Regions from separate parts of the Homo sapiens genome. Here region 2 is linked to region 1. Evidence: fine-mapped expression QTL. Tissue or cell type: whole blood. Region 1 holds a variant in brackets; the other region holds the start of a gene. All regions are shown on one strand. Distances are from middle to middle.

Evidence for each region. PIP is the estimated chance that this variant, and not a neighbour inherited with it, causes the effect.
Region 2: SCD starts here. The variant in region 1 is fine-mapped to the expression of SCD in whole blood (INTERVAL, PIP 0.95).

Annotation. Positions count from the first base shown.
Region 1 is chr10:100,494,739-100,497,496 of GRCh38, reverse strand. It overlaps SEC31B (SEC31 homolog B, COPII component), which reads left to right. Exons shown (of 26, transcript NM_015490.4): 17 at 217-362; 18 at 1,066-1,239; 19 at 1,951-2,112. Among named protein-coding and RNA genes, the nearest start is that of SEC31B, 24 kb to the left of the region's middle. The variant T/C (reference allele first, on the strand shown) is at 1,411.
Region 2 is chr10:100,345,670-100,348,169 of GRCh38, reverse strand. SCD (stearoyl-CoA desaturase) reads right to left here and starts at 937. Exons shown (of 6, transcript NM_005063.5): 1 at 639-937; 2 at 1-106. The coding sequence starts at 665. RefSeq lists enhancers at 573-812, 1,193-1,262, 911-1,502 and silencers at 1,043-1,092, 1,293-1,672.

The sequences.
Region 1 (2,758 bases):
TTTTCAGAGGGGATCCTTTGTTGTCCTGTTTTACCTTGTCTTGTCACACCATGATGTGAGAACTTTCCCCTTCTCTGTACAGCAAGGTGAGTCTCAGTGTTGTCTTAAACTGCAGCTACTTGTCCCAGGCTCATGGTCCTCTCCCTGTTTCCAAACAGGAGAAGGAGAGGCACACAGGGCAGCTGTGCCATTAATGAAATTACCCTCTCTCTGCAGACATGCTGGGAACTCGCATGGAACAGGAGGGCAGCAGGGCACTAACCTCCGAAGCCAGACTCTGTTATGTGTGCTCAGGGAGTGTGGAGCGGCTGGTGGAGTGCTGGGCAAAATGCCACCAGGCTTTGTCCCCCATGGCTCTGCAGGTACCCCTTCTCTGCAGGGTACTGGCCACTCCACACCAGGCCCTTAGGAGGCTAGTGGTGGAGATGTGCAGAGCTAGCAGAGGCGAATCTTCTGGGACAGGCTGGAACCACGGTGTTAGGGAGGAGCGAAAGGTCCTGAATGTCTGGGATCTTCTCCTCTTCCCTCAGAGAAGACTAAGCAGCAGCTGCTTCAGTGTTAGTCTTCATAATTTTTTTCCTATTTCAGGTTTGGTTTTACAGATGTATTCAGTACTTGAGTAATTGTGGCTTGGCCCTTCTATTAGCTACTGTGGAAAGTTCTGTGGATCTAAACTTCCAGGTGTTCTGTGGGTGACCACAGAAAGTGGGGGTCACAGACTCATGGAGAGACAAAAGTCGCACATGAAACAATTAGTCTGACAGAGTCTGTGGTTGGTGATGTATAAGCAGAAAGGGTAAAAAAGCAAAAGGAAGAGGTAGAGATGTACAAAAATCTAAGACCCAGATGGGTCCAGTTAAATCCAATCCTAACAGCTTGGGAGGTGAGGCCAGGTGGCCCTTCTCTGTCACAGTTCTTACGTGTCATCATCTGCTGCCTTCACCTAGGTATGGTCAGGTGCCCTCATCTGTACCCATAGTGGGAGATCCCTGAATGAGCTGCGTGGACTTAGAGAGCAGGATATGCCTCATTGAAGGCTTACCACCCTCATCCTTGCCCTTACAGGACCTGATGGAGAAGGTGATGGTTCTTAACAGGAGCTTGGAGCAACTGCGGGGTCCTCATGGGGTGAGCCCAGGCCCTGCCACAACCTACAGGGTCACTCAGTATGCCAACCTCCTGGCAGCCCAGGGCAGCCTGGCCACTGCCATGAGCTTTCTACCCAGGGACTGTGCTCAGGTAAGTGGGGCCATGTGGAGAGAGCAAACCATTTCATTCAGTCATCTAACATTGATTGAGCACTTCCATATTCCAGGCACTATGCTAATGCTGAAGCTCCTAGGATAGATAAGATGGAATCCCTTAAGCACCTCACAATCTACTGGGGGAAGATCAGATGTTGATGACTTA[T/C]AGTGCCATAACAGAAGCTTATACTGAGCACTGTGGGAGTCCAGGGAAGGGACTGATTTTTGCCTGGAGAAGTCAAGGAAGGCTTCTCAATGGTTAAAACAGCTGAGCTGGACCTTCAAAGAGAAGTAGCTTACCAGCAGATATAGAGCATTCTAAGCAGAAAGAATAGCAAGGAGGGAGGCATGCAAGTGTTTGGCAGGGATTCAGGAACCTTGAGTCATCTCTAAGGGGGCTAGAGTATAGAGCGGGGGTGTCCAAGGGTCAGAATACAGTCGTGGGTGCTTAGTTTCTGTTTCTGGTTGGGCCAGTAAAGCCCCTTCCTCATCCCGGTTTTCCACTTATCACTAGAGACAAACCAAAAACCATGGCTTCAGGCTGCTAAAAACCTAAAACAAAACAAAACAGAACAGAACAACAACAACAACAAAATAACACAGGTTGGACAAGCTTGGTGTAGAGGGTCAGCTGAAATTTGACTGCTACCTGGGGCCTTGATTGTTTTAATTTCTTGACACAGCTCTTCCTCATTAAAACTTATAGCCACCAGTTCAGCAGCTAAGAGATCGGCTTTTTCATGCTCAAGGTTCTGCTGTCTTGGGCCAACAGTCTCCCCCTTTCCCCTTCCCCCGGATTGTTGTGGGAGCTACCCTCCACTCTAAAGAGACATCATCTTACAGATTGGGATCCCAGCCTTCTCACCAGGTAAGACCTCGTTTGTTCATTCATTTGTTCATTCAATAATACGTGCCAAGCATGGTTCTGGGCACTTGGAATATATTGTGAACAAAACTGATGAAAATTCCCAACTTCCATAGAACATAGATTCAGTTCTTTTTATAATAAATAACTGTTTATTGAACTACTAGGCTCTTAGGACATAAAGGTGCAAAAATTGTGATACTTGCCCTCAAGTAGCTCATAGTGTAGTCGAAAGATAGATATGTAAAAAATAGCTACAGTAGGCCTGGCGTGGTGGCTCACGCCTGTAATCCCAGCACTTTGGGAGGCCAAAGCGGGCAGATCATGAGGTTTGGAGTTCGAGACCATCCTAGCCAACATGGTGAAACCCCATCTCTACTGAAAATACAAAATAATGATCTGGGCATGGTGGCACGTGCCTGTAGTCCCAGCTACTCGGGAGGCTGAGGCAGGAGTATCACTTGAACCTGGGAGGTGGAGGTTGAAGTGAGCCCAGATCATACCACTGCACTCCAGCCTGGCAACGGAGCGAGACTCCGTCTCAAAAAAAAAAAAAAAAAAATAGCTACAGTAAAATTCATAAATACCATGATTGGGGTATGGCAAGGGGCTATAAGATCACACAGATGAAAGTAGTTTACTCTGTATG
Region 2 (2,500 bases), 150 kb after region 1:
CGTCTTCCAAGTAGAGGGGCATCGTCTCCAACTTATCTCCTCCATTCTGCAGGACCCTGGAGGGAGGCGCTGTAATGGTGGTGGTGGTGGTATAGGAGCTAGAGATCTGGAAGGGGGAGGAAGAGGAGAGTCAGGAGAAGAGACACGTGGAGGCAGCTGGGGCCACTCCGCTCTCTAATCACGCTGGGGGAAGGGTGGACAGTACGGACCCTTCCGCAGCGCCGTAGTTCACTGAGGGTAGGGTGTATCCGAGACGCAACGGAGAAAAGTTCCCTGAAACTGTACAGATACATTAGGGGCGGAGGGCGAGGGGGACGAGGGGCGCGAAACCTATCGGGAGGCGGCAGTAGGAAGGAGAAGTAAAGCACTCACATCCCCACGAAGACAAAGGAAAACCCGCATAATTCATAAAAGCACCAGCACGACCGGATTTTTCTTTAAAGCTTAAGAAACTAAAGTTGGAGACTCAAGTCCCCAAATTACAATCCACATTCCCAACTCACGGAAGGCAGCACAACTCGAAAAAGATGACCAAGTCCTCCGCGGAGCTCTCCCCTCTCTTCTGCCACCAACCCGTCCCCTGGAAGCCCAGCCCGCGCCTGCGACCCGGCGGTACGGGGCCAGGCTGGGAAACTCACATCGTCCTGCAGCAAGTGGGCCGGCATCTTGGCTCTCGGATGCCGGGATCACTTTCCAGGGGGCTGAGGCTCCGGAGCGGAGTTCGGGGTCGCCGGAGGACTGCGGTTTCGAAGCCCGCCGGTACGCGCTGAGCCGCGGCGCCTTGCACGCTAGCTGGTTGTCGGCGCTAGCCGCGGTGCGTGGAGGTCCCCGAGCCGGGAATTTAAAGGCTAGAGCTGGCAACGGGTGACCGTGTCCGGTATTTCCTCAGCCCCCTTTTATCCGCTGCCAAGCAGGGGCAAAGTGCGAGGAGTTGACTGGCGCGGGCGGTCCCGCGTGGAGGTAAGGGCGGGAGGGGGAGGAGACAGAGGCCGAGGCTCGCGGCGACCGCAGCAGGGCGCCGGGGATGCTGCCGACACCGACACCACACCACCCGGCCTCTGCCCCTGCCCCTGCCTCTGGGGAAATGCTAATGAGGCTTCTGTAAACTCCGGCTCGTCATTGGCCGAAGGGAATTTGGTGCCACCTCGTCCTGCCGTTGCCATTGGCTCGGCGCAATCTGCTGTTCCCTCTGCCGCCAGCTCCTCGCTCCCCCTCCCCTCTGTTTCTCCTTCTCAGCTTCTCTTCCACCCGCCGCTGGGCCTCTGCCCGGCATCCCGCGTCGGGAGCTTTCTCTCTGGAAGGGGCTGGGGACCCGGTTTGGGGCTGGGGCGCGGAGCCTAGCCCAGGACCGGCCCTCGGGCACACGGAGAACGGGTGGGTGGGCACTGGGGAAGTTTCTCAGGAAACAGTGGTGAACCCTCGGGGGGCGCCCACCACTAACATCTCCGTCCCGTCTTCCGTCCCCCCAGGCGCGTGGCAGGGAGACGTGGCAGCCACCCCAGGATCTGGAGCTTGGGGGACGCGGGAAGCCCCGCCTCCCTCCCGGGCGAGCGCGGGGGACTCGGTACGCCTGCGAACAATGGCTCTGCCCCGCCCACCAGCCACGCGCTGCTCACCCGGGACCGCACCGGACTCCGGCCGCACACACAGGCTGGCTGGTGTGTGTGTGCCTGCGCGCACGCATCCTGTTCAGGACCCGGGCGGGCAGTCCCATCCCCAAGCCCGCGCCTCCAGGATGCGTGCGGGATGTTTTGGAGATTCTTCAGACTGGCAGGTTGTAATTTTGGAATCTTCTTTGTGGAAACCGTCAGGAAACACTGACATGTGTTTTCACCCAGCAGCAGGCGAAAGGGCTTGGATGTGGAATAAGAATAGCTGGCAGGTATTGAATTATTACTGCAAGCCAATTCACAAGAATCGTTTTCTGTAAGCCTCTCTGTGACCCTGGGAGGTGGGTACCCCATTATTCCATTTTAAAAGTGAGGAAAGAGATATGGAGAGATGGAATAACTTGCCCATGGTCACAGCAACCAGTAAGTGATGGAGCTGGCAGTTGAGCCCAGAAACACCATATGAGAGCCCAAGCTCTTAATCCCTGCTCAGGACCATATTGCCCTCGGTCCCTGAGATGCTCTGACCCTACTGATCTGTCCCTGTGCCCCCATCTTTTCCGTGTCTGTAGGAGCCTTACCATGAGAGCTCAGAACCAGGCAGGCTATGCATTCACCCGGTGTCCTTCCATGCCCATGTCTTTCCCAAATACTGCCCTAGGATCCTTCCCCTGGGAAGAGGAGAAAATACGGAGTGCTGCGCCAATGATTCACTTCCCAGGAAGACAAGCACCTGGGATTTCCTGGGAGGTAGACTAAGCAGCTCCTTTGTTGGCCACTGGTCTCAGGGTCAGGCCAACTCTCTGGCCAGTGACCAGGAGACTGCATTCCAGTCCTGGCTCCCTGTCCGGTGTGAAAGTTCTGAACAAGACTGGATGATTTCAGATGTG